Homo sapiens: one gene and its partners. The protein of the gene in region 3 interacts with the protein of the main gene of each other region in a biochemical or structural test. Each region holds a gene or a part of one and is shown on either strand. Other genes may lie near its edges.

Region 1 (7,349 bases), on a different chromosome or scaffold from region 3:
GTCACCCACCTGTATGAAATGAGAGGCAGCTGCAGAAGTACCTTTCCCTAAAATCCAGATTTACTGAACCCATAAAGTAGGGGGTTAAGTTTCCCTAGCAAGGGTCCAGTAGGGGTTAAGTTTCCCTAGTGGTGGCCTGTGCCATAAATGCTACTGGACCCTCACTAGGGGCAGCTGCCAGGCAGACTCTTTTCGTAGTATCAGCACGGACTGACAGACAAAATGCTGCAGGTGTGAGCAGTCTCGTTCCTATTTTACAGACAGGAGAGCTTGAGATTCAGAAGTCATGGGACTTGCCTAAGGTCACACAGACAGAACCCAGGCCCAGTATGAAAGCCATGGGGCTTCCTATTCACCACGCTGCTCCTATGGCAAAGATTCTTCTAATAAACTTAACCCCTATGTTATGGGTTCAGTAAATCTGGATTTTAGAACCATTCTTAAAGAGGGTTATTCTTAAACCAGGGTAGTATAAAAACAATCACAAACATTTGATTTCACCCAACCAAGTCTCCTTCTCTAACCTAGAGAATTTCGAGCTTCCAGAGCCCTCAGAGATCCACTCCAGCCTCCTTGTTTTGCAGGTGAGGAGGCTGAGGCCTCCGGGATGAAGTGACTCATCTAAACTAGCTGGTGGCAGCCCCATGGAACTCACTCCAGGGGTCTAAATTCCCATCCCCCAAAACAACCCAGGCCCTGCCTTTTCAGGAAGTGGAGTGAACCCGAATCCACATCACGGTGGGAAGAACAGGGAGCTGCAGATCCCCTGTGGGCCTTTGGATGGGTTCTCTGCTGCCAGGGATGATCGTCTAAACAAACACTCAGGAGGGAAGCCACTGAATAAACCAGCTCCAACACTTAAATAGCTGGATGCTCTGGGGTGTCATGAACGCCACACTGCCATCAAAATGAGGGACTCCGGAAGTTAGGGTAGGACAAAAGGCCATTCCAGAGAATGCACAGCAAGTGGTTCTCCTATATACACACTCTGGAAGCCAGGAGCACTTCAGAGCAACGTGGGGACAATCCCACAGAGGCCAACACAGAGAGCATTCTCCAAGCCCAGCAACACCGAAGTCCAACCACGCACACTCTGCCAGACAGCGACCCCTCCTCCCGGAACTGAGCCTCACAGGCCCCCTATTGTTGTCAGCTTAAAAACTGAACTTTGCTGAGCAAACACACTCAGCTGTGTTCAAAAAATCAGTTTCTCTCAATACTTGGAAAACTGCAGCATGCATGCAGAAAGGCCAGTTGTAGGGGGTTTTGTTTGTTTTTTAAGCAAAGCCTTGGTCAGTACAGCTTTAGCCAACTGTAATAAAAAATAATAATACCCAGCACTGACTGTATTCTTCCAATGTCCTGTGGTTTTATAGCTTTTAAGAAAATAAAACTGAGGGAGAGTCACCCCCGAGCATTTGGAATCAAACAAGGATTCGGCTTTGTGGCATGCCTGGAGGAAGGATTGGTCTTGTAATAATTACCGCGATCACAGAGGGCCTTATGACAGCTGGCAGAGGCAATTAGCAATAAGGGGCGGGGGGAGGGTTTGGGGGAGGAGAAATTGAGGATCTAATAAAACAAAACATCCCCAGACCTGCAGGAGGCCAGATGTGGCAGGGCAAGATGGTGAGAGGTTCCTTCTTCAAGACGGGGCAGCTATTAACTGGTCTGACGTTTCACCGCCCCGTCCCTGGCCAAAATCACATTCAGAATCCACTAGTTGCCCTCATTTGTGTATGGACAGGGTGCCCCAACAACCCTCGGGCTGGTTTTTCCAAATCCTTCAGATACTTCCCCAGCTATAATTTGAGAGAGGAAGGCCCGCATATCTTATTTCTTCTTTACACTCCAGACTGTCTCCATCAGAACCCTTTAAACAGTTTCATCTTCCCACCAAAGGCTTGCTTCCCAGCATAATCCTTCCTAAGCCTAAATCCAATCTTTGGGGGGAAGCAGGGGGAGTCAGCGGGTAATTATTAATACATTTTAAGCAGCGAGCCTCCGTGGCAACGTGAAAGGAAAGCACCAAACGCCTGAATAACAAAAATGCAGTTTCAGCAACACTTTTTGAAAAGGCGGCAGACAAGACCTGAGAGGAGAGGAAAGGAAGGGACAGGACGGCGTCTGGGGCGTGAGGGGAACAGGGGACGGCAGGCCTGCGATCACGCTTCAGGGGAACCTCCTCCGTCACCCTGGCCCACGGGTGCTCGGCTCAGTCACACGGGGAAAAGTCCAGCTTGTGACTCGGTGGGACAACGAGTCCTGCGGCCCCGCAAACTGGAAATGGGGTGGGGGCGGAGAAGGGGGGAAAGGGGATGTCCGCGCGCAGCCCACCCCGCACGGGCCCCTCGAGCCTCCATCCCAGTTCCCACGACGCACCCGCCCCACAAATCCTGCCCAAGATGAGGGCTGGTCCCGGGTCCTCCGGCTGCCGCATCAGCGAGTGCAGGAGGGAGGGGAAGCCTCCAAGGGGGGCGACGCGGGCTCAAGGATGCAACTCGGCCAGGAGTACTGGGGCCCGGAGGGAGGTGTCCGGGCCCGCTCCTCGAGCCCAGCCTGGTCCCCGACCCACTTACCTCCAGGGTCCGTATCTCCTGCTGGGTGAGGTCGTTGGACACAGCGCACTTGGTGCGCAGCCCGCGCAGGCTGCCGATGGAGATGTCGATGAGCTTCTGGAGCTGCCCGCACTGCTGCAGCGCCCGGCTGGCCGCGGCCCCTGCGCCTCCCTCCGCGGCCGCCGCATCCCCCCCGCCACCGCCCTCCTTCTTCTCTCCCATCGCCGCCGCGCGCAGCGCTGCTCTATCCATGCCTCGGCATCGGGGCCGCGGCGGCCGAGGCTGGGAGCCCGGGGCGCGGGCGCCTCGGCAAGGAACCCCCGAGCCAGGAGAGCTGGACCAGGAGCGCCCCTCGGCGCTGCCCGAGCCGGGACGCCGGTAGAGCCGGCCGCTGAGTCTGCCGCTTCCACCCTCCCAGCCGCGGCAGCAAAGCGAAAGCCGCGGCGACCCGACGGCTGCGGCTCCCGGAGCCTTTAAGCGGCGGCGGGGGCTGGGTCAGGGCGGCCGGGCATGCTGGGACTTGTAGTCCACGCCGCGCACCTGCCGCCGGCCTCCGCCCTCGGGGCCCCGGACCGCGCCCGCGCCGCCCTCCCTGCCCTCCTCTCCCCTCCCCTCCCGGCGGCCGCGGCGAGGCAGGCGGTGAGGGCCGGCCCCAACCGGGAGCCCCGGGTGGAGCTGCTCCGCGCCAGCTCCTCCCCCAGGCGCCGAGAGTCGGGGGAGCAGCGTCTCCCCGTCCGCCTCCGTCCCCCACCCGGCCTAGGAGCTTCCCGCGACCCCCGGATGGGGCGGCGCCCCCTGGACGCCCGGCGGGTGTGCGTCCCGCAGTTCCTCAGCTGCAGCCCAGCCCTGGAAGATGGGGACCAGGGAGGTTCCAGGATTTGTATGTGGGTTTAGGGGCTGCCATCTAGTGGGAAGGGGCTTACAGCACTTCTGTAGCTGGCTCACAAAGCGCTCTACTCTGGACTGCCTGCGCCAAAACGATTGCTCAGGCTTGGAGAAAGACGAAGAGCTTTCTTCTGAACCACATTTACCTGCCAAAATAAGTGTCCCATTCCCCCGCCATTCCCAGCCCACCAAGCCAGCCCAGACACGGGGGACAGCACACTGAATTGTCGGTGGCTTCGGAGCAAGTGGCCAGGATTCAAATTCTGACTCCACCACGGTCTAGGGTGAGACTTTGGGCACGTTCGATTTCCAGTGAATGCCCGACTCTCCTCATCAAATAACTCTTTAATAGGGTTCCTATGAAGAATCAGTTAATACATGTACAGCACCTAGATTGATTACTGGCACATGTGGTCGCTGGATAAATGTTAGCAATTCTTACTATCTAACCTCAGATCTGAATGTGGCCCTGGACCCAGGTAGTGGCCATGGAGCAGTACAGTACTGCCAAGGACTGGTAGTCCTTTGTCCTCTGTGCATTTCTGTGCCTCCTAACCCAGCAATCAAGCCTTGCCCATCTGTTCACCCTCCTCTCCCATTAGTTCACCCCATGCGTTCTATTATCTGGCAAAACTGAAAAACCAAGTCTCTGATCAAAGCTCCCACACCTTCATGCTTTCGACATCTGTCAACCAGAAAAAATGTCTCCCCTCTCAATTTTCTCTTGTAAGCTGCTTGATTGCAGAAGCCACTAGCTATTGTACCCTCTTTATAGTGCCAGATACAGTGCATGGCACACAAGAAAGGCTCCAGCGTGCCTCAGGAGCTCTTTCAGCAGGTCCTATGGGATGTTTCTTTTACCTCTCAGGCCAGCCGAGGGTGTGTGTGTGTGTGTAGATAGACAGTTGTTTTTTTGGTTTTGTTTTTGTGTTTGAGGATGAGAATTGGACAGGAGGTGGGATCCAAACCTTGTAGACACTAAAACAATCAATAATGGATGGCAGTTTGTATTACACCTTCCTTTAATGTTTATATTACACCAGCCTTCGAAATAAATTAAGGGCTGGGCACCGTGGCTCATGCCTGTAATGCCAGCACTTTTGAGAGGCCAAGGGGGAAGGATCACTTAAAGCCAGGAGTTCGAGACCAGCCTGGGCAATGTGACAAGACCCTGTCTCTAAAAAAAATAATAAATTTTTAAAAATCAGGTCTAGGAAGCAAAACTATAACTTTAAAACTTGTTTTTGCAAATTAACCCCTCCTCGAGATTTTCCAAATGCAAGGAGGTTCCTCCCTAACCCCTGGCCTTTCCCATTGAGAGTCATTGATCCAGTCCTCACTCAACTTATAAAAAGACCGCCTGCACGATATTATGAATTTCTCAACCTGTTACCTTAACCCCATCCGACTCCTTGCAAAGTAGTAACTATTATGAAAGGGAAACTAGTTGTGGTTCTCAAACTTGAACATGCATCAGAATCACTTGGAGGGCTTGTTAATTCCCAGAACCATGGAGCTCACCTCTATAGTTTCTAATTTTGTAGATCAGAGGACAGGGCAGGAGAATCTGCATTTCTATCAGGTTCTCAGGTGGTACTGATGTGGTTAGTCTGAGCCCAGTCGCAAGTCTATACTTTGAGAAGCCTAGGCACAGAGGAAGGTCAGTGGGCAGAGAACTATCTCAAGGGACTATCCACAACCCAACCTGGCTGGTTCAGAGCCTCTGTCCAGCAGCCAGAGCTGCCAGGCTTGAACGACTCACTCATTCTAACACAATTCACAAAAGATTTTTTTTTTTTTGAAACAGGGTCTTGCTCTGTCACTCAGGCTGGAGTACAGTAGCATGATCATGGCTCAGTGCAGCCTCGACCTCCCAGACTCAGGCGATCCTCCCACCCCAGCTTCCCAAGTAGCTGGGACTATAGGAGTGTGCCACCATGCCCGGCTAACGTTAACTTTTTTTTTTTTTTCCTTTTTTTTAGAAATGGAGTCTCTCTACGTTGCCCAGGCTGCTGGTCTCAAACTCTCGGGCTCAAGCAATCCTTCCCCTTCAGCCTCCTGAAGTGCTGGGATTATAGGCGTGAACTACCATGCCTGGCTCACAAGAAATGTTCTGGTAAGTGCCTATTTATGCACTTACATCAAACTTGTTATTGCCACAGGGACCTGGTCATCACATTCTCCCTCTAGGGCCACTTTATGTGGGAAGCCACATCCTGAGAAGAGCCACTGCCAGCTTGTGGCATTCATGCCCACCCATGTCACCACAGGGGTGATGTCAGAGCCTGAGACTGGACAAATGCCAGCTCCCTGGTTACTCTCCCGCCAGGTTCCATGCAGCGAGTCTGTCCTCTGTGGATACAGTCTTCCCTCTGATTATCCAGAGCATTCAGCAGGCCACAGTTTTCCTTCCTCACAGATGGCCTCCAGCCTTCTTGCCTGGATTTGAGTCATCTGTCAGCCACAAGTTTACAGAACTGCCCCTCAGAGGTGGAGAAACTTTTTTGTTTTTGTTTTTTGTTTTTAAGAGACAGGGATTTGCTCTGTTGCCCAGGTTGGAGTGCAGTGGTGCGAGAAAGCTCACTGCAGCCTCAAAAGTCCTGGGCTCAAGCCATCCTCCTGCCTCAGCCTCCTGAGTAGCTGGGACTACAGGTGCCTGCCACCGCATCTGACTAATTTTTAAATTTTTTGTAGGGACAGGGTCTTGCTGTGTCATGTAGACTGGTCTCAAACTCCTGTTCTTGGCCTCACTCTCCCAAAAGTGCTAGGATTACAGGCATGAGCCATGGCACCTGGCCGAAATAAGGATTTTTAAATAATCCCTTCATTCATCCTTTTAACATTCAGTAAGCATTCATGAAGTGCCACTTACATGGCAGGCCCTGTTCTGGGCTCTGGAAAAGGGTAGTGAACAAAATGAAGATTCTTACCCTTAGGGAATTTATGCTGTGGTGAGAGGAAACAGACAAGCAGATAAATGCACAGTGTGTCAGTGGTAACAGGTGGTATGGCACTGCAGGGAAGGGGACAGGGAATATGGCCTTTACAACTTCGAATAGAGCTGTTTTAGAGAGTAGGGTAGTCAGCTCTGTCTCTGAATCGCTGTATGACCTTTGACGAGTCTTATATGACCTCGGGCAAATCTCCTAATCTGGTAGCACAGCTTCTTATTTGCAAGATGGTGATAATGTTTTATGAGGATGAACAGATTATATAACACAAAGTAATGGTCATAAAATAAGGGTTCGGCATATTTATTTATTTGATAAATATTTACTGTATGTCTACTGAAACTGTTCCAAATGCTTAACTCATTGAACTATGCATTACTTTCTTCCTCACCTTCCAGAATGAATCTCTTCTAGTTAGATGAATTGATCTATTATGTGTTGATTCAGGGTTTCAGCATCATCTCCAGGTTCTTGAGGCTTTTTCTGAGGCACCTCAGTAGAGAAAGTTTGCTTACTCTCTCCTTCCTCTCCTCTGTCTCGGGTCCCTTCATTGCTTTTCCGAGCTTGTCTGCATCCAAACACCAACAGCAGCGGTGGGAGCATTTTCATGCACAGGCCCAAGAAACATGAAGAGGACACTTAGCATGCGCCAGGCTCTGGGGTAGGCTCAAAGCGAAGGAAGCCGAGTCCTTATCCCTGTGGAACATACATGAAGGGAAGGACAGGAAATGAATGTCAACAAATATATTACCAAAATAAACTGAGAATCATAAGTGCTACGCAGAAGAAGAAGAAAGCAAATAGCCGAGAGTCTCTGGTGGCTAAGGTACTTCACTAGGTGAAGTGGACAGAGAATTATTATCTGACCATTGAACTAAGATGTAAATAAGGAAAAGCAAGCCATGTGGAATGTTCCAGGAAAGGAGCACTCCAGGCAGTGGGAACATCATGTGCA
Region 2 (7,450 bases), on a different chromosome or scaffold from region 3:
CTTTATATAATAGAGTTCCTCTTCTCCAAACAATGTTGTTGTTGTTTTTGCTTTTAGAAAAACCCTACCATTTGCAGGGCCACGCTTATCCTTTGCAGGGCCTGGGGAAAGGGTACACGGGAAGGCCCACATGCCACATGCCTAAATATCTAAATGTGTTACATCACCCTAACAGATGTGGCACATTCACACTCCTTGCCCTAGCCTGGGCTACATCCAGCACAGAGAGGAGCTTCGTCGGCACACAGCTGAGGTCCAGCTCCTGCACAACCCCCAGGTCTAGGGATGCCCACCTCAATAACTTCTTTCGAATGACTATGAAAGACTGCCCCACGCTCCCCATCCAGGCTTGAGGCTATTTGCATTGGGAATTCAGGGTCCTCCATACCATGTGTGTTCTAGAAGGTGGAGGGGGCGTGCCCCCTTGGCCCATCAGAAACTTAACCACACGGGGTACAGCATGGTGAGAGGAGGGCCAGGTTAGGTGCCCACGGCAGGAGTCCTTGCCTGGGTTGATACTTGAGAGGATCACTTGAGCACAGGAGTTCGAGATCAGCCCGGGCAACATAAGCAGACCCTGTCTCAATGAAAAAACAGAAAAGATGATACTTTCATGAATCCTCTTTCTTTCTTTCTTTTTTCTTTCTGAGATGGAATCTTGCTCTGTTGCCCAGGCTGGAGTGCAGTGGCATGATCTCGGCTCACTGTGACCTCTGCCTCCCGGGTCCACGCGATTCTCCTGCCTCAGCCTCCTGAGTAGCTGAGACTACAGGCACCCACCACCATGCCCAGCTAATTTTTGTATTTTTAGTAGAGATGAGGTTTCACCACGTTGGCCAGGCTGGTCTCGAACTCCTGACCTTGTGATCTGCCCGCCTCGGCCTCCCAAACTGCTGGGATTACAGGTGTGAGCCACTGCACCCAGCCCAGGAATCATTTCTATAGTTCTTTACGAAGCAGTTTCTTTGAAAGTGGAAAGCACAAAGAAAAAAAAATTTTAAAGCTATATGGAACACAATATCTTTTCATAGAGTTTTCTTTTATCATTGAGTTATCTTTTATCATTTGACTTTCTAGTTTTTAGCATACTGACTTTCTTTTGTTGTGTTGTGTTGTATTTTGAGACAGAGTCTCACTCTGTTTCCCAGGCTGGAGTACAGTGGTGCAGTCTTGGCTCACTGCCGCCTCCACTTCCCAGCCTCAAGTGATCTTCCCGCGTCACTCCTGAGTAGCTGGGACTACAGGTGTGCGCCACCACACCCTACTAATTTTTGTATTTTTTGTAGAGATGATGTCTTGCCTTGTTGCACAGGCTGGTCTCGAACTCCTGAGCTCAAATGATCTGCTCGCCTCAGCCTCTGGAAGTGCTGGGATTACAGGCATATACCCCTGTGCCCATTCACATACTGACTTTCAAAGAACTCATAGACAAGGATTCTTACAAGGCTTCCTACTATATTGACTGCATCAGCTGAGGGGCTCACAAAGAATTGCCACCCCCAGCACACTTATTCACTCCAGGCTTTGGGGCTTTAGTGGGGCTTGAAGCCCCTAGCGCAGGGTCCTAGCCAGTACTTTTTATTAGATAAAGCAAATTATAGATGATCTCCTGACAAATGAAGAGTGCAGTTTTCCAAGGACATTTAAAATAGAAGTATAAGCTGGTCAGGGTGGCTTATGCCTATAATCCCAGCTACTCAGGAGGCTCAGGCAAAAAGACTGCTTGAGCCCAGGAGTTCGAGTCCAGCATGGGCAACAAAGCAAGACCCCCATCTCCAGAAAAAAAAAAAAAAAAGAAAGAAAGAAAAGAAAGGAAAATATAATTTTCTTCAGAGAAAAAGTCTCACTCTGTCACCCAGGCTGGAGTGCAGTGGTGTGATCTTGGCTGACTGCAACCTCCGCCTTCTGGTTTCGAGCAACTCTCGTGCCTCAGCCTCCTGAGTAGCTGGGGACTAAAGGTGCGCACCACTATGCCTGGCTAATTTTTGTATTTTTAGTAGAGATGGGGTTTTGACATGTTGGCCAGGCTGGTCTTGAGCTCCTAACCTCAACTGATCCACCACCTCGGCCTCCCAAAGTGCTGAGATTACAGGCATGAGATGCCATGTCCGGCCATTTTTCTTTTTTAAAATAATTTTTTAAATGAAAATATTATTAAATAAATGAACACCATGAATTTGCATGTCATCTTTGTGCAGGGCCATGCTAATCCTCTCTGTATTTTTCCAATTTTAGTATATGTGCTGCTGAAGCAAGCACAATTTTCATTTTTTTCAATTGATTTCAGCTTCTGCAGGAGGAAGTATAATTTTCTGATGGCTTCTAAAGAGGAACAGTTAGCAGTTATTGAGATATAATCATGTAAGGTGGTGTAGGATGGTGATGCCTACTCCAGTCTCCTTACCCAGGCTGAGTTCATATTTTTGTTAGAAGAAGCTGCAGGATGGAGAATTTGGGGTCTGGCTCAAGAACAGTGTGAGTACAGGTGATGATCACAGGGGAATACATTCCACACGGGGAGTTAGCAGTCCTGCCTCTACTCTACTTTGATGGCTGATTGAGAAGTCACTTACTTTGAGCCCATTTCCTCCTCTGTGGGGGAAAAAAAGGGTCAGCCTAGATAACTCAGAATATTTGTTGTAAAATTGACTGTCTCTGGGAGGGAGTGTGGGTGGGGCTACCCTGAGCCATCTGAACTCTCGGAAGTCCTTCAGAGTGAACACAGATCAGCTCTTGCTGTTCACTTACTCACATTTCATCTGTGGTGTCAGAGCCTCAGGGACCCAGCAGAACTGGGGAACATCCTCCAGTTACAGCATGTACTACCTGCAGCCTGATAACCATCACTGGGGTGGATTTCCAGCCTCAGATGTTCAGGTGCTCTTTTTGGAAACACACACTTCTCACGTTACTGCACCAAATATGGGTCCCCAAATGACAGCCATAGCGCATGTCGGGGAGAGCTGCAGTGGGTCAAGTGATGCCTTTAACCAACTGAACGCAGTTTTCGGTCCCTGAAAACTATTTGCTTCCTTATCAATCAACCTGAAGGGAATGATGGAGGTGACACTGGGAGTCTTGGTAGGTTTCCAGACTTTCATAAGTTCGGGAGAAATTATTGACTTAGCATAGATGTGAGCTCAAAGAAACATTTCCTAACAGCAATAAAAATAAGCATTAGAGTTGAACAATGGACTGTGACTGTTTCCCAAAATAGCTGTTTTCTTGAGTCCGCAGAACAACAGGTACTGTATTAATGGGGATACAGTATTTGTTTCACAGCGTTGTTGTGAAGATAAACGGGATACCCCAGATAAACAGCTTGTGTCCCCCCCATCTTAACAACCCTCCTTTAGGCTGGCGGGCCACCTGCTCAAAAGCCTTCCCCAGGGGGGTTAAAACCGTCTTTTAGTAGTTCTGGTACGGGTGGGCTGGGGGAGATCCTCTAAAGCCAGTGCGACCTTGACCCCAGCCAATGTCCAGGCTCTTGACACATCCAGAGAATGAGTTCAAGGACAACTCAGAAAATAGTGACAATATGCAGATTTATTGCAAAGGGAAAAGTACACACCCAGGAAAAGGGATTGTGGAGAGGGTCACTCACAACGGGGCTTGGGGCTGCTACCTTTATGGGTTTCTTTAACCAAGGGGTGAAATATTCATGAAAATTCCTGGAAAAGTGTGGAGATTTTTCGGGACTGTGGTGCCACCCATTTTTACTTCAAATATGGGTGTCCCCGGAATTGTCATGGCACTGGTGTGACTTAGGATGTTAAAGAGCGTATAATGGAGGCCTAGGAGAAACCTAGGTCAAATCCAGGACCACGTCGGGTCCAGCCGGTCTTAGCCAGCTTGGTACACACCCTGGTTTTCAGGGTCTTATCAGCCCATAGCCTCCAGTCAAGTGAAACTGCTGCCTGGTATTTTTTATTCTCCTCTGACCAGCCTGCATTACTCCTGTCCCATGTTCAACACGAAATAGGGCCTCAGGAAATATTTACCAAATGAATGAATGGTTGCCTGTTCTAATTTTGTTTAACCACACTCTTGTCCTAAGCTTCTATGATGATACCCAGGGCCCCCGAGTTGTGCCAGTTCCACTACGGCGTGGATGCAAGGCGAGCGGCAGGGGAGCAGGTAAAGGATGAGTAAGGGAAGCCGGCGGATCCGACGCATTAGAGAACAAGAAAAAGAAATCCTTAGAGACTGGGGGCCAACAAAGAGCCAGGCGCGGGCGAACCCACCAGGGGGGCCCCGGAGCCCCACATCCGCCGCTGGGACGACCTCCCCGCCCAGCATGGTCCGGGGCGCGGACCCGGCCCCGCGCCAGGCGCCCCCGGCCCCGCACCCGGCGCCCTCCGCAGCTCCCGCCCCCGGGGCGGTGCCGGGAAAACGCGGCGCCTCCGCCGGTCACGTGGGGGCCGCTCCGGCGGGCGGCGCTGCCGCTTCCCAATCGCGCCCTCCCAGCGCCGGGGACGCGGCGCCCGCGCTCCCGCCCGAGCCCGGGGAAACGGAGACAAGGAGGCGCCGCCGCCCCCTCCCCGCGGCTGCGCCCCAGCCCTGCGCCCGCAGCATGCCCGCCGCCGGGCCGAGCGCCGCCCTCCCCCAGGAGCTCGAGGAGGCGACGCCGCTGCCGGCCGCGGGACCGCGGCTGCGAGGGTAGCGGGGCCGGAGCCGGGCCCCCCGAGGCGCCGCGCGGCGGGCGGAGAGGGAGGAGGAGCAGGCATCCTCCGCGGCGCGCGGGCGGCGGCCCTGCTGCCCGGCGCGCCCATGGCCCGGCCGCAGGGAGAATGCAAGCTGCTCTCCACGCGCTCGGCGTCCCCCGGAGCCGCTCGCGTCGCCGCCGCCCCCTAGCCGCCAGCGCTCGGCCGCTGGCTGCGCTAGGACCCGCGGCCGCCGGCCGCCGAGCGCGGGAGGGCAGGCAGGGGCAGGAGCCGGAGGGCCCGGGGCGCGGCGCGGCATGTAGCTGCGGGCTCCCGCGTCCGCGTGAGGCTGTCGGCCCGGGGCCCCGCCATGGCTGGGATGGACAGTGGCAACCTGAAGACCGCGAGGCTGTGGCGGGACGCCGCCCTGCGTGCCAGGAAGCTGCGGAGCAACCTGCGCCAGCTCACGCTTACCGCCGCCGGGGCCTGCCCCGGGGCCGGGGCCGACGCGCTCGAGTCCCCCGCCTCCCCCCAGCTCGTGCTGCCGGCCAACCTCGGGGACATTGAGGCACTGAACCTGGGGAACAACGGCCTGGAGGAGGTACCCGAGGGGCTGGGGTCGGCGCTGGGCAGCCTGCGCGTCCTGGTCCTGCGCAGGAACCGCTTCGCCCGGCTGCCCCCGGCGGTGGCCGAGCTCGGCCACCACCTCACCGAGCTGGACGTGAGCCACAACCGGCTGACCGCCCTGGGCGCGGAGGTGGTGAGTGCTCTGAGGGAGCTGCGGAAGCTCAACCTCAGCCACAACCAGCTGCCCGCCCTGCCCGCCCAGCTGGGCGCTCTCGCTCACCTGGAGGAGCTGGATGTCAGCTTTAACCGGCTGGCGCACCTGCCTGACTCCCTCTCCTGCCTCTCCCGCCTGCGCACCCTGGACGTGGATCACAACCAGCTCACTGCCTTCCCCCGGCAGCTGCTGCAGCTGGTGGCCCTGGAGGAGCTGGACGTGTCCAGCAACCGGCTGCGGGGCCTGCCTGAGGATATCAGTGCCCTGCGTGCCCTCAAGATCCTCTGGCTGAGTGGGGCCGAGCTTGGCACGCTGCCCGCCGGCTTCTGCGAGCTGGCCAGTTTGGAGAGCCTCATGCTAGACAACAACGGGCTGCAGGCTCTGCCCGCCCAGTTCAGCTGCCTGCAGCGGCTCAAAATGCTCAACCTCTCCTCCAACCTCTTCGAGGAGTTCCCTGCCGCGCTGCTGCCCCTGGCTGGTCTGGAGGAGCTCTACCTTAGTCGCAACCAGCTCACCTCGGTGCCATCCCTTATCTCGGGCCTGGGCCGGCTTCTCACCTTGTGGCTGGATAATAACCGCATCCGCTACCTGCCGGACTCCATCGTGGAGCTGACCGGCCTGGAGGAGCTCGTGCTGCAGGGGAACCAGATCGCGGTGCTGCCCGACCACTTTGGCCAGCTCTCCCGGGTGGGTTTGTGGAAGATCAAAGACAACCCACTGATCCAGCCCCCCTACGAGGTCTGCATGAAGGGGATCCCCTACATCGCAGCCTACCAGAAGGAACTGGCTCATTCCCAGCCGGCGGTGCAGCCCCGGCTCAAGCTGCTCCTGATGGGGCATAAGGCTGCAGGAAAGACTTTGCTGCGCCACTGCCTCACCGAGGAGAGAGTGGAGGGATGCCCAGGAGGAGGGGACAAGGAGAAGTGCTACCCACCGTCACCTCCCCCTGTGAGCAAGGGCATCGAGGTGACCAGCTGGACGGCCGATGCCTCCCGGGGCCTGCGGTTCATCGTGTATGACTTAGCTGGGGATGAAAGTTATGAGGTGATCCAGCCCTTCTTCCTGTCCCCAGGGGCCCTATACGTGCTGGTGGTCAACTTGGCCACCTATGAGCCTCGCCACTTTCCTACCACCGTGGGCTCCTTCTTGCATCGGGTCGGGGCGAGAGTGCCCCACGCGGTGGTGTGCATCGTGGGCACCCACGCAGACCTGTGCGGAGAGCGTGAGCTGGAGGAGAAATGTCTGGACATTCACCGCCAGATCGCCCTGCAGGAGAAGCACGACGCGGAGGGACTGAGCCGCTTGGCCAAGGTGGTGGACGAGGCACTGGCCCGGGACTTCGAGCTGCGCTCTGCCAGCCCCCACGCAGCCTACTATGGCGTTTCGGACAAGAACCTTCGACGGCGCAAGGCCCATTTTCAATACCTGCTCAACCACCGGCTGCAGATCCTCTCCCCCGTGTTGCCTGTTAGCTGCAGGGACCCGCGCCACTTACGACGCCTTCGGGACAAGTTGCTGTCAGTTGCTGAGCACCGAGAGATCTTCCCCAACTTACACAGAGTACTGCCTCGATCCTGGCAGGTGCTGGAGGAACTGCATTTCCAGCCACCTCAGGCCCAGCGACTGTGGCTAAGCTGGTGGGACTCGGCGCGCTTGGGCCTGCAGGCGGGTCTGACCGAGGACCGACTGCAGAGTGCCCTCTCCTACCTGCATGAGAGCGGCAAGCTACTCTACTTTGAGGACAGTCCGGCTCTCAAGGAGCACGTCTTCCACAACCTCACCCGCCTCATCGACATCCTCAATGTCTTCTTCCAGAGGGATCCCTCTTTGCTGCTGCATAAGCTGCTCCTAGGGACCAGTGGAGAGGGCAAGGCGGAGGGGGAAAGCTCCCCGCCCATGGCGCGGTCCACCCCCAGCCAGGAACTGCTCCGGGCCACCCAGCTCCATCAGTATGTGGAGGGCTTTCTGTTGCATGGGCTCTTGCCAGCTCATGTCATTCGGTTGCTGCTTAAGCCTCATGTCCAGG
Region 3 (7,022 bases):
AAACTAGGGGAGGAAGCTTTTAGTGAGCTCAAGATAAATCAGGCCAGGCTCAGTGGCTCACACCTGTAATCCCAGCAATTTGGGAGGCCAAGATGGGTGGATCACTTTAGGTCAGGAGTTCAAGATCAGCCTGACCAACATAGTGATACCCGTCTCTACTAAAAATACAAAAAATTAGTGAGACGTGGTGGTGCACGCCCATAATTCCAGCTACTCAGGAGGCTGAGGTACGGAGAATCGCTTGAAGTCGGGAGGCAGAGGTTGCAGTGAGCCAAGATCACACCACTGCACTCCAGTCTGGGTGATGGACTGAGACTGTCTCAAAAAAAAAAAAAGAAAAAGATAAGTCAAAAGAAATGATCCAAGCCTAGATAAAAAGTGATTTAACTGAAAAGAAACATGTTAAAAAACAACAGCAACAAAAACCAAAACAGAGCCTCCAAGAATTGTGGACTGCATTAAATGAGCTGCCATGAGTTTAACTGGAACCCCACAAAAAGAGAGCAAACCAGCAGGGGGAGGGGGGGGAAGGGCGGGGGGGTGTCGCGGGCAGTGGAAACATTAGAAGAGAAAGATGCTGTGAATTTTTCATACATTATTTAAAAGATCATAAATCCCAAGAAGCTCAGTGATTCCCCCCTACAAAAGCAGTATAAATACAAAACACACAAAAATGTACACATATCCCAAGATGTTAACATCTTTAACCTGCTATAAAAAACGAATGATATGGCCGGGCATGGTGGCTCACACCTGTAATTCCAGCACTTTGGGAGGCAGAGGCAGGTGGATCACGAGGTCAGGAGATTGAGACCATCCTGGCTAACATGGTGAAACCCCGTCTCTACTAAAAAAATACAAAAAAAATTAGCCAGGCATGGTTGCGGGTGCCTGTAGCCCCAGTTACTCAGGAGGCTGAGGCAGGAGACTGGCATGAACCTGGGAGGCAGAGCTTGCAGTGAGCCGAGATGGCGCCACTGCACTCCAGCCTGGGAGACAAAGCAAGACTCTGTCTCAAAAACAAAAAACAAAACAACAACAACAAAAAAACCAAATGACACATGCCTGTAATCCCAGCACTTTGGGAGGCCAAGGAGGGCAGACCACTTGAGGCCAGGAGTTTGAGACTAGCATGGCCAACATGGTGAAACCCTGTTAAATACAAAAATTAGCCAGACGTAGTGGCGGGAGCCTGTGATCGCAGATACTTGGGAGACTGAGGCATGAGAATCACTTGAACCCGGGAGGTAGAGGTTGCAGTGAGCTGAGATGGCGCCATTGCACTCCAACCTGGGCGACAGAGTGAGACTCTGTCTCAAAAACAACCGCTACCACCACCAATGACAGCCTGGGCACAGTGGCTCAGGCCTGCAAATGCAGGATTTTTGGAGGCTAAGGTGGGAGAATTGCTTGAGTCTAGAAGCTCAAGGCTATAGTGAGACAAGCTTGTACCACTGCACTCCACTTGGGCAACAGAGCGAGACCTTGTCTCAAAAAAAAACAACAAATAAAATAAAATTTAAAAACCACTGATAAAACATATTTGATACTGACAGCAGAAAAAAGGAACTAAATAAGAATCACAGCCAAATTCTTATTTGAAACTGTGCAAGTCAAAAGATAATAAATAGCATCCTTAATATTAGAAAAACACTGTGAACAATAAATTTATATCCAGCAAAATCTTTCAAAAGAAAAAGTGAAACAAAGTATTTGTGAAACAATCTTTGGAACTTTGTTACCAGTAGAATTGAAGTCCAAGAAATGTGAAAGGAAGTTCTTCATGCAGAAAGAATAAGCACTGGAAAAGAGGCCACTATAACACAGAAAATCAATTTTAATTTAACTTGTACTAACTACTTTAAATTCAAATTTAAATAGCTACACTGGCTAATGACTACCATACTAGACAGCACAGGAATAAAACAAATATTACAAGGTATTATGCATTTATGGCATTTGTAAAAGGTAAAACAGTAATAGCACAAAAGATAAGGAGAAATTGTAAATATACATTGTAAATATACTGTTGTAAAGCTCTGACACTATATAAAATGTGGTATAGTATTGCTTCCATATGGTCTATTATTAAAGATGTAAAATATAAATCACAGAGAAGCCAATTAACTTTTTAAAAGAGAGGAAAAGTTGAGTGTAAGTAGTGAGCCAATGGTGAAGATAAAATGCACTCAAAAATAGGCATCAGAGAGCACATAAGTAGAAAACAATTAAGATTGTATATTTAAATCCAACTACATCAAAATTACATTAAATGTAAATAGTCTAAACACTTCAATGTAAAAACAGATTTTTCAAGATGAATTAAAAAAGGCTGTCTAGAACAAACCCATTTTAAATAAAAGACAGATTAAATGGATGGAAAATAATATACAAACACTAAAAGGAGGCTGGAGAGGCTGTATTAATATTAGATAAAGTAGACTTTGGAATGAGGAATACTATCAGAGATAAAGAGGGCATTATATAATGATTAAGGGGTTCATTCACCAAAAAGTTTTAACAATCCTAAATTTACATGCACCTAACAGGAGGTTCAATACACATGATGCAAAAACTGAAAAGGAGAAATAAACAAACTTACCATTATACTTGGAGACTTCAACTCTTCTCTCAATGATCAATGAAACAAACAAAAACTCAGTAAGGAAAGAGAAGGCCTAACAAGCATCATCAATCAACTTGATATAGAATACTCCACTGCTAAACAGCAGAATACACATTATTTTGAAGTGTACATGGGACATTTACTGAGAGTAACCATATTCTGGTCATAAAACAAATATCAAAGAATTTAAAATAAATTATACAAAGAAAGAGACATGCAAAATCACCAAATATTTGGAAATTAAACAGCAACCTTCATGGGTCAAAGTGGAAGTGACATAAGAACTTTAAAAAAAATCAGTGCATCAAATTTGTGTAAGCACCTCAGGCAGTGCTTGGAAGGAAAAGAAAAAAGGTCTCAAGTCAATGACCTAAGCTTACACCTTAATAAATTAACATAGAGGAATTTAAACCCAAAGCATATAGAAAGAAATAGTAAGAAGCAGAAATCAATAAAACTAACAATTAAAAAAAAAGCAATCAAATAAAAAGTTGACTCTGAAAAGATTAATAAAATAAACCTAGAACCAAATAAAAATGAGAGGTCACACTGCTAATAACAAGAATGAAAGGAAAGACACCACTACAGACGTTATAGGCATTAAAATAATTAAGAAACAACTTTATGACAACGAATAAATGAAATAAGACAAATGCCTTGAAAGACAAAAACTACTAACGCTCACTTAGTGAGTGAAAGTGATTCATACAAAGACCGAAAGCTTTCAAGAAGAAATAGATAACCCTAATAATCCTGTATTTATTAAAGGATAATTGGACTTATCCTTTGAAGCCTTCCAGCAAAGAAAACTCTAGGACCAGAAGAGTTCACATGCAAACTCTAAAAAAAATTGTAAAACAAATAATACTAATCCTAATAAATTCTTTTTCAAAAATATAAGAAACACTTTGCAACTCTATGAAACCAGCATTATATGAAAAAGTATCTTTCATGAACATAGATGCAAAAAAAAAAAAAATTTCACCAATTTATAAAAATGATAGTAGATAATACACCATCACCAAGTGAGGTTTAACCACAGAATGGAAGATGATTCAACATTCGCAAATAAGTTAACGTAATTCATCACATTAACACAGAAACAAACCATATGATCATCTCAATAAATACAGTAATAATACCTGACTAAAATCAACATCCACTCATGATTTAAAAAAAAAAAAAAAAAAAACTCTCTGCCAGGCGCAGTGGCTCATGCCTGTAATCCCAACACTTTGGGGGGCCAAGGCGGGCAGATCACGAGGTGAGGAGTTCAAGACCAGCCTGGCCAACATGGTAAAACCCCATTTCTACAAAAATACAAAAAAGTTAGCCAGGCTTGGTGGCGTGTACCTGTAATCCCAGCTACTCAGGGGGCTGAGGCAGAAGAATCACTTGAACCCAGGAGGCGGAGGCTGTAGTGAGCTGAGATGGTGCCACTGCCCTCCAGCCTGGGCAACAGAGCAAGACTCCATCTCAAAAACAACAACAACAACAACAACAACAACAAAAACCTCTCAGCAATCCAAGAATAGAATGGGAACATCCTCAATATGATAAAAGGCCACTTGTCTTAGTCCATTAGGACTCCTATAACAAGCTCCCATAGACTGAAGTGGCTTATAAACAACAGAAATTTATTTCTCGGCTGGGCGCGGTGGCTCACACCTGTAATTCCAGCACTTTGGGAGGCCAAGGCAGGTGGATTACCTGAGGTAAGGAGTTTGAGACCAGCCTGGCCAACATGGTAAAACCCCGTCTCTACTAAAAATACAAAAATTAGCCAGGCATGGTGACATACGCCTGTAATCCCAGCTACTCGGGAGGCTGAGGCAGAATTGCTTGAGCCTGGGAGACCGAGGTTGCAGCGAGCTGAGACTGCCACTGCACTCCAGCCTAGCCGACAGAGCAAGACTCTGTCAAAAAAAAATAGAAATAAAAATAAAAGAAATTTATTTTTCACAGTTCTGGAGGCTGGGAAGTCCAAAATCAAGGTGCTGGTAGATTCAGCGTTTGGTGAGAGCCACTTCCTGGTTCACAGACTGCAGTTTTTTCACTGTGTTCTCATACGGCATAAGGGGATAGGAGCTCTCTGGGACCTCTTTTATAAGCACACGAATCCATTAATGAAGGCAGAAGCTTCATGACCTAATCACCTCCTTGAGATCCCCCTCACAATGGGGATTATGTTTCAATGCTATGAATTTTGGAAGGGACATAAGCATTCAAGCTATAGCACCACTCTATCACACTCAATAATGAAAGATTCAAAGCTTTCTTCTTAAGATCAGGAACAGAGAAGGATATCTGCTTTCACCACTGCTATTCAACATCATAATGGAGGTCTTAGCCAGTCTAAGAAGAAGAAAAGGTGGAAGGAGTTACATATAAATTCAAAAATAATAAAACTGATCTATATTTGCAAATAACATGATTGTCTACATAGGACAATTCCAGAGAATCTACAAAAAATTTACTCAAATGAATGAATTTAGCAAGGTTGCAAGCATCAAGGTCCATATGCAAAAACCAACTGTATTTTTACATATAGCAGTGAATAACTGGAAACTAAAATTTAAGAAAATTATCACTTATAATGGTATCAATTATTAAATACTTAGATATAAATCCAACAAAATGAGCAACATCTTCATGCTGCAACTACAAAATGCTGACAAAGGAAATGAAAGAAGACCTACATAAATGGAGACAACCTGTATTCATGAATTGGAAGACTCAAGATGTCGATTCTTCCTAAATTGATCTATGCATTCGACACAAACCAAATTAAAATCCCTTCAGGTCTTTTTGTAGAAACCAACACGCAGCCTCTAAAAGCTTTACGGTAAAGTTAGAATAGCCAAGGCAATTTTGAAAAAGAATAAAGTTCAAGGATTCATATTACCTAATTTCAATACTTATAAGTAAAAATAACCATGATAACTCAGTACTGGCAAAATTATAGGCATAAAGATCAAGAGAAAAGTACAGGAACAGATTTACATATATGATCAACTGACTTTTGACAAAGTTAATTCAATGGGGAAAGGAAAGTAGTCCCAACAAATGGTGCTAGAACTACATATACATTTGAAAAGAAAATGAGCCTTGACCCTTACTACACACCATATACAAAAACTAACCCAAAATGGATAATGTGCCTTGACATGAAAGCCAAAACTAGAAAACTTATAGAAAAATCCTAAGAGTAAATCTGCACAACTTTGCATTAAGCAAAGAGTTCTTAGAACACAGAAGCACAAATCATAAGAAAAAGTTGGTAAGATGAATTTATCAAAATTAAAAGCTCTTCTTTTAAAGTTAGGAAAATAAAAAAAAAACAAGCTTCAGATTGCAGTGTGTGTGTGTGTTTATGTATCTCTGTGTGTCAAATGAGTTGTATAAAGAATGTATTAAAAAATGCTTACAACTCAATAAGACAAACCCATTTTTTTTTTTTTTTTTTTTTGAGACGGAGTCTCGCTCTGTCGCCCAGGCTGGAGTGCAGTGGCACGATCTTGGCTCACTGCGAGCTCCACCTCCCGGGTTCACGCCATTATCCTAACTCAGCCGGAGTAGCTGGCACTACAGGTATCCGCCACCACGCCCGGCTAATTTTTTGTATTTTTAGTAGAGATGGGGCTTCACCGTGTTAGCCAGGATGGTCTGGATCTCCTGACCTCGTGATCCGCCTGCCTCGGACTCCCAAAGTGCTGGGATTACAGGCGTGAGCCACCGCGCCAGGCCCACCCATTGTTGTTTGTTTGTTTTTTAATGAGCAAAAAATGTCAACAGATACTTCACAAAGGAAGACATACACTAGAGCAAATTCTCAGCACCATTAGTCATCTGGTAAATGCAAATCAAAATCCCAGTATGATACTACTATATACCCACTAAAAGGGCTAAAATTTAAAAGACTGAAATAACCAAGTGCTGAGGATGATGTGGAGCAATTGGAACTGTCATACACTGCTGATGGATATGTAAAATGTGACAACCACTCTGGAAAACAGTTTGGCAGTTTCTTATAAACATCCATGTATCATACAACCCAACAAGTTCCATGTCTAGGTATTTACCAAGAAAAAAAAGATGTTCACAAAAATTCAAAATAAATGAATGTTCATTGAATAAAGGAATGTTCAACAAATGAAGGCTATTTATTAATAACAGCCCCAAACTGGAAACAATCCAAGTATCTGTAAATAGGTGGAATGGTCAACAAACTAGTAAATCAATACCAAGGACTTCTATTCAGCAATAAAATGAGAACCCGTTAAATACAGAAAAACATGGATAATCCTGAAAAACATGCCAAGAGAAAAAGCCAGATACAAAAGAGTATGTATTACATCATTCCACTTACATGAAATTCTAGACAAAATGATACCAA
Region 4 (7,458 bases), on a different chromosome or scaffold from region 3:
TGGTGATTACTTCTAGGAAGAGGAATGGAATAGAACTATGGACTTTTACTTTACCTGAGTAATTTGGAATTTAAATAAGACTGATTAAGAAGTAAAAAAGAGCCGGGTGCAGTGGCTCACACCTGTAATCCCAGCACTCTGGGAGGGCAAGGCGGGTGGATCACTTGAGGTCAGGAGTTTGAGACCACCCTGACCAACATAGTGAAACCCCGCCTCTACTACACACACACACACACACACACACACACACACACACACACAAACTAGCCGGGCGTGGTGGCAAGTGCCTGTAATCCCAGCTACTTGGGAGGCTGAGGCAGGAGAATTGCTTGAACCCGGGATGCAGAGGTTGCAGTGAGCTGAGATCGCACCACTGCACTCCAGCCTAGGCAACAGAGTGAGACCCTGTCTCAAAAAAAAAAAAAAAAAAAAAAAGGAGGTAAAAAAGAATGATGAAAACACTAAAAATCATATCTGAAAAGTTTTTAACATGATAAAAAAAACTATATTGAACAAGGAAGAAAATATTTGCAAATCATAGATGTGATAAAGACTTGTATCTAGAATGTATAAAGAAGTCCTACAACTCAAAAAGACAGCCCAATTTAAAAACAGGCAAGGCCGGGCGCAGTGGCTCACGCGTGTAATCCCTGCACTTTGGGAGGCCGAGGTGGGCGGATCACTAGGTCAGGATATTGAGACCATCTTGGCTAACACGGTGAAACCCCGTCTCTACTAAAAACACAAAATATTAGCCAGGCATGGTGGCAGGCGCCTGTAGTCCCAGCTACTTGGGAGACTGAGGCAGGAGAATGGCGTGAACCCGGGAGGCGGAGCTTACAGTGAGCCGAGATTGAGCCACTGCACTCCAGCCTGGGCGACAGAGCAAGACTCTGTCTCAAAAAAAAAAAAAAAGAAAATTAACAAGTGCTATGAGAGGTGTGGGGAAATTGGACCCCTCATAGAGTACTTATGGGAATGTAAAATGGTGCAGCACTTTGAAGTTTGGCAGTTCCTCAAAAGGTTAAACATAGTTACCACTTAAGCCAGCAATTCTGCTCCTAAGTATATACCCAAGAGATATGAACACATACATCCACGCAAAAACCTGTCACATATGTTCACAGCAGCATTATTCATAATGGCCAAAAAGCGGGAACAACTCAAGTGTCCATCAAGAAGGCCAAGTTTTAAAAAAAGAAAGTCTCGGCCGAGTGCGGGAGTGGATCATCTGAGGTCAGGAGTTCGAGACCAGCCTGGCCAACATGATGAAACCCAGTCTCCACTAAAAATACAAAAATGAGCCAGGTGTGGTGGCCGGCGCCTGTAATCCCAGCTACTCGGGAGTGTGAGGCAGGAGAGTCGCTTGAACCCGGGAGGCAGAGGTTGCAGTGAGCCGAGACCGTGCCATCCCCGGAGGCAGAGGTTGCAGTGAGCCGAGACCGTGCCATTGCACTCTAGCCTGGAGGACAGAGCGAAACTCCGTCTCAAAAAATAAAAAAAAAGAAAAAGTCTCGTATTAAGGTCCACAAAGCAACTGTGCATTCACTAATTAAATATCAACTCGTAAGAAAAAAGTGGAGGAGGGAGGAATACTTCTATTAATATGGAAGTTAAATCTAAATCATACAGGCTTTTTGACAAGGTAATCGTATTTTAGAGACCATTCATTTACGAGAATAACCCAAAGGAAGGAAAATGAGACGCAGATAAACATATTCTGAGTAGTGCTATTTTATAATAGTAAATACTGGAAGGAATCCCAGTTTCTCACAATAAAGTGGGTAAACTCTGGTTATAAAAAATAAAAAAAAAACTATATAGTGTTTTTATATTGTATTTAATAAAAATGTCAAGCATGTGGATTACATCCATAACTAAAATTGGATAATTATTCAATCACAAAACACACATTTAAGCAATATACAAGGTAGAGAGAGACACCTGAGAATAAAAAATACTGTGCCAGAGCAATGCTTCTCAAACCTTAATGTGCATAAGAATCATCAGGGAATTTACAAGCTTTTTCATTTTAGCCTTGTTTGGTTGGGCTCAGGCATTATCTCTAAAATGAGATTCTAAGGTATGCCTATCAAGTTAATTGCTGTAGTGCACTAAAATGGCAATACTGTGTTTCTGCAATGGGACTATGAATTTGTTTTAACTTTCCAAATTATTTATAATACTGCAATGTACTATATAATAATGCTGTATGGTATATTACATAATGATTAAAAACACAGGATTCTACCGAGGACAAGAGAAGTTGGTTAAAATCAAAGCCAGTAAGTGGGCAGAATCAGAACTGGACAGAACGATCCGACTCCAAGGCCAGCATCTTAACTTCAAGCTTCTCAAACTGCGGCAACGCACATTCTCCTGGGGCGGCATTTAACACCGACAATAATGAAACTGGACCTATAACCGAGCAACGAGTTAAGTCGGCAAGGACGGTTTCTAGAAGCTCGAGACAAGAGAAACTGGGGGCTCGCGGCTCCGCCCCCAGATCGTCTCCCCGCCCTCGGGGGCGCTCGGGCGGAAAAGTTTGGAGGCGCGACGGCCCCGGGGCCTTTCTACTCCCCAGCCTTCACGCTCCGTTTCCTTTACTTCGACCTTCATCTCTGTCGGCCTCTCCCAACATCTCGGCCTCCCCCGCGGACCCGAACAGAGGCAAAACAAACGCCAGCTACCCCGCCCCCGCCTCGGCCCCCAGGCCGAGCCCTCGCCTCAGGTCCGGGGAGGCCTCCCCCACAACCTCGGCCCGCAGGCCCGGCGCCCGCGGCCCGACCCCACTCACAAGAGGAAGCTCATCTTCGGTCCTCAGAGGGGAGGCGAGGGGCCCCTGGCCCCCGCCTGGATCAGGATTCGGAGCTGGCTAGAGGGAGCGGACCGTCCTTAGCTCACGGGCAGCGGAAGCCGGGCCGCCGCCGCTCGGAGCCGGGTTTCTGGCCGCTGCGAGCCTTTGCAAACCTCGGCGCCCGCCTTGCCCGCCTACCCCACCTCGCAGACCCGAAATGCGGAACCAACAAAATCTCGCGAGCTAAGGTTTCGCTGCGCCGGGAGGGACTTGTCGCGCCCCCTTTCGCTCCGCCTCGTCCTAGAACTCGGCCAATCATCGCTCTCCAAGCCAGGACCTCCCTCCCCCGGAGGCGTGGCGAGGATGGCGGTCCTGCGGAAGGGGCAGTGGCTGGTCCTGCTCTTAGAGTATCTTGGTGCTGCTGGGTTTCGATCCCGCTCCCTAGGTTATGCAGGGACCTCTATAAGCGCTGCGTACTCCTGCAATTTTTAAAATTGTTAATTTAATTTTTACTTGAAATATATTCACATAGCATAAAATCTGTCCTTTAAACATGTACCCTCTAGTGGTCTTTTTCGGTTTTTTCTTTCTTTTTTTTTTTTTTTTCTGAGGTGTCTCGCTCTGTCGCCCAGACTGGAGTTCACAGTTCACTGCAGCCTGGACTTCCTGGGCTTAAGTGATCCTCTCGCCTCAGCCTCCCGAGTAGCTGAGACCACAGGTGCCTGCCACCACGCCCGGCTAATTTTCTCAAAGTTTTTGCAGAGACGAGCGTCTCACTGTGTTGCCCAAGCTGGTCTTGGACTCCTGAGCTCAAGGGATCCTCCTGGTTTGACCTCCCAAAATGCTGGGATCACAGGTGTGAGCCACTGCCTCCGGCTTTGTTTATGTTTTCAAAGTGTGCCAACCATCAGCACTAATTTTTTTTTTTTTTTTGACAGAGTCTCACTTTGTAACCCAGGCTGGAATGCAGTGGTGCAATCTCGGCCCGTTGCAACCTCTGCCTTCCAGATTCAAGTGATTCTCATGCCTCAGCCTCCCGAGTAGCTGGGATCACAGTCGTGCGCCACCACACCCGTCTAATTTTTGTATTTTTTTTTTTTTTTTTTTTTAGTAAAGACGGGGTTTCGCCATGTTGGCCAGGCTGGTCTCGGTCTTGAACTCCTGACCTCAAGTGGTCCACCCGCCTCGGCCTCCCAAAGCTGGGATTACAGGCGTGAGCCACCGCGCCCAGCCTAACCATAATTTTAGGCCATTTTCATCACCCCGAAAAGAAACCCCATACCTATTAGCAGTTACTCTTTATTACCCACCTCCCTCCTCCCAACCCCTGGCAACCACTACTCTACTTTCTATTTCCATGGATTTACCTAATCTGGACATTTCATATACACTGTGAATGGAAGCATACATTATGTGGTCTTTTGTGACTGACTTCTTTCACTTAGCATAATGTTTTAAAACGCACCCATATTGTAGCATGTATCAAAGCTTCATTACTGGCCAGGCACAGTTGTGGCTTACGCCTGTAATCCCAGCACTTTGGGAGTCTGAGGCTGGCGGATCACTTGAGCTCAGGAGTTCGAGACCAGCCTGGGCAACATGGTGAAACCCCGCCTCTACAAAAACACAAAAATTAGCCAGGCGTAATGGTGTGTGCCAGTGGTCACAGCTATTCGGGAGGCTGAGGCGGGAGGATTCCTTGAGTCCAGGAGATGGAGGCTGCAGTGAGCCAAGATGGCGCCACTTCACTCCAGCCTGGGTGACAGAGCCAGATCCTGTCTCTAAAACAAAAAAAAAAAAAAGAAAAAAGAAAAAAACTTTATTTCTTTCTATGGATGAGTAATATTCCATTATGTGAATATACCACATTCTGTTTACCCATTCATCTGTTGAGGAACATTTGGGTTGTTTCCACTTTTTGTCTATTATTAATAATGCTGTCGTGAACATTCATGTACAGGCTTTTGTGTGGTATTAATGCCAAGTGACAGCCAAGCAACGCCTTCATTCCACCATGGTGGAATGAAGAAAACAAAAGGAAAATAGTGGGAGACTTCAGTCATAGCTCAGCAAATGGTGGTGCAGGGTGCTCAATGTAAAGGAGTTTGCCCTGTACCTGACTGCACAATGTTCATGTTTCCAGTAATTTTATTTCATTCATATATCACTTGTCACATTAAGTTAATGATGTTAGGGCACATGAGACTGTATTAAATTATATTTACTATTTCTTGAATATATTTTTCAGTCAGTTATGTAAAGCAAATTTACATACTCTTTTTCCTCCCCTGAAAAAAATAAATTAATAATTTTAATTTTTTAAACTTTTGTAGTTTTTTGGAATTTGATTTATAAATAAATGCGATTTGATATCGCTATATGGAAGTTACAAATATAGGAACACAGATTTAGGCCGGGCGAGGTGGCTCACACCTGTAATCCCAGCACTTTGTGAGGCTAAAGTGGGCAGATCACTTGAGCTCAGGGGTTTGGGACCAGCCTAGGCAACATGGCAAACCCCCATCTCTACAAAAAAAAAAAAAGATAGCCGGGTGTGGGGGTGCACGCCTATAGTCCCAGCTACTTGGGAAGCTGAGGCGGGAGGATGGGTTGAGCCCTGGAGGTAGAGGCTGCAACGAGCCGAGATCACACCACTGTACTCCAGCCTGGGTGACAAAAGTGAGGCCCTGTCTCAAAAAAAAAAAAGAAAAAAGGTACATCTATTTATACTTCTGTGGTAATTTATATTACTTAAATAATATCATAAAAACAATTTCCAAATAACATGGGAAAAAAGAAATTCATGAAAGGTTTCCCTCTTTCAATGGTATTTTTCTTCAAGTTGAAGAATCACTGAGGATAGAAGTCCAGCTATTTATAAGAAAAACCTTTCAGGATGGCTAAATTTGGTTGGGGTAGCAGGGAGGGAGGATTTCAGGGTTAGGGAAAAATCCTCAATCAATATTTAAGCACGATATCAACATAGTTCACTTAGATATCAAAGATAAGATTTTTCCAGTAAAAGAGAGAAAAAGAAATTGTTCATTGCTAATTGCTACAGGACAATTTGTTCCCTACCAGACAAGGTCTATACAAAGACCGAAGAAGTTTTATTCACTTCTTGGCTTAGCCGGCCAGAGATCACTGCACACCATCTGGTCACAGCAGATGCTGAAAGCAGAAGCTAAGCGGCAAATTATGAGGCCTCCAGGACTAGATCTTCTGAACCTCTCCCCACCCGCCTTTCATCACACACAGTTCCCCTTTCTAGCTCCCTGAGGCAGGATTTGCAACTCTGCATTTTCATTCTGTGTAAGTGCCCATCCTATCATTTGCAAAACTCCCGTTTTACCCTAACAACCTCACCCACACAGGGCATCTTCCCACTTTGGTCGCAGTAACGTTCCTGCCCCTCCCAGCCAGTTGGTGCTGTTGGGAGCTCAAGCTTTTTTTTTTTTTTTTAAACAAAAACAAACAAACAAAAAACTCTACTCCTGTGACAGATTAAGGAATTTTAATCTTTGTCACAAATAGGTGAAGAGAAACAAACAGTAAAGTTGCTAACCAGCCTGGGCAACATGGTGAAACCCCTTCTCTACAAAAAATACAAAAATTAGCTGGGCATGGTGACTTGAGTCTGTAGTCCCAGCTACTCTGGAGGCTGAGGTGGGAGGATCCCTTGAGCCCAGGAAGTCCAGGCTGCAGTGAAAGGAGACTGTGCCACTGCACTCCAGCCTGGGCATCAGAGAGAGACCCTGCCTCAAAAAAATAAAAATAAAATAAAATAAGTTGGTAAGCTGTCCCTGTCCATTATCTCAGTACTCAGGTTGCAGACTTTGCAGACTGTGAAGGAGAAATCCCAATTTATCAGAAATCAAAAACTCACTCAGCGGCTGGGCATGGTCGCTTACGCCTGTAATCCCAGCACTTTGGGAGGCCAAGGTCGGCAGATCACTTGAAGCCAAGAGTTCGAGACCAGCCTGGCCAACATGGTGAAACCCCCATCTCTACTAAAAATACAAAAATTAGCCGGGCGTGGTGGCGTGCACCTGTGGTCCCAGCTACTAGGGAGGCTGAGGCAGGAGAATCACTTGAACCCTGGAGGCGGAGGTTGCAGTGAGCCGAAATCGCACCACTGCACTCCAGCCTGGACGACAGAGCCAGACTCTGTCTCAAAAAAAACAGAAAAAGAAAAAAAAATACAAAAATTAGCCAGGCATAGTGGCGTGTGCCTGTAGTCCCAGCTGAGGCTGGGAGGCTGAGGCACGAGAATCACTTGAACCCAGTAGGCAGAGGCTGCAGTGAGCTGAGATCATACCACTGCACTCCAGCCTGGGTGACTGAGCAAGACTCTGACTCAAAAATGAAATAAAATAGGCCAGGCGCGGTGGCTCACGCCTGTAATCTCAGCACTTTGGGAGGCCGAGGTGGGCGGATCACCTGAGGTCGGGAGTTCGAGACCAGCCTGACCCACATGGAGAACCCCATCACTACTAAAAATACAAAATTAGCCGGGCTTGGTGGCACATGCCTATAATCCCAGCTACTTGGGAAGGCTGAGGCAGGAGAATCGCTTGAACCTGGGAGGTGGAGGTTGCGGTGAGCCGAGATCACGCCATTGCACTCTAGCCTGGGCAATAAGAGCAAAACTGTGTCTCAAA

What was found.
Region 1: the proteins of PJA2 (region 3) and KSR1 form a complex in vitro, tested with the Homo sapiens proteins (one study listed by BioGRID).
Region 2: the proteins of PJA2 (region 3) and MFHAS1 form a complex in vitro, tested with the Homo sapiens proteins (one study listed by BioGRID).
Region 4: the proteins of PJA2 (region 3) and MOB1A form a complex in vitro, tested with the Homo sapiens proteins (one study listed by BioGRID).

What each region holds. Positions count from the first base shown.
Region 1 is NC_000017.11:27,452,105-27,459,453, reverse strand, and holds the start of KSR1 (kinase suppressor of Ras 1), read right to left. Parts: upstream 3,007-7,349; 5' UTR 2,811-3,006; coding exon 2,580-2,810; intron 1-2,579.
Region 2 is NC_000008.11:8,890,622-8,898,071, reverse strand, and holds the start of MFHAS1 (malignant fibrous histiocytoma-amplified sequence 1), read left to right. Parts: upstream 1-4,441; 5' UTR 4,442-5,013; coding exon 5,014-7,450. UniProt on the Homo sapiens protein: Probable GTP-binding protein. Functions in innate immunity and more specifically the inflammatory response as a regulator of the Toll-like receptor TLR2 and TLR4 signaling pathways.
Region 3 is NC_000005.10:109,399,967-109,406,988, forward strand, and holds part of PJA2 (E3 ubiquitin-protein ligase Praja-2), read right to left. Parts: intron 1-7,022.
Region 4 is NC_000002.12:74,175,864-74,183,321, forward strand, and holds the start of MOB1A (MOB kinase activator 1A), read right to left. Parts: upstream 3,017-7,458; 5' UTR 2,812-3,016; coding exon 2,798-2,811; intron 2,452-2,797; exon of another isoform or gene 2,392-2,451; coding exon of another isoform or gene 2,252-2,391; intron 1-2,251. UniProt on the Homo sapiens protein: Activator of LATS1/2 in the Hippo signaling pathway which plays a pivotal role in organ size control and tumor suppression by restricting proliferation and promoting apoptosis.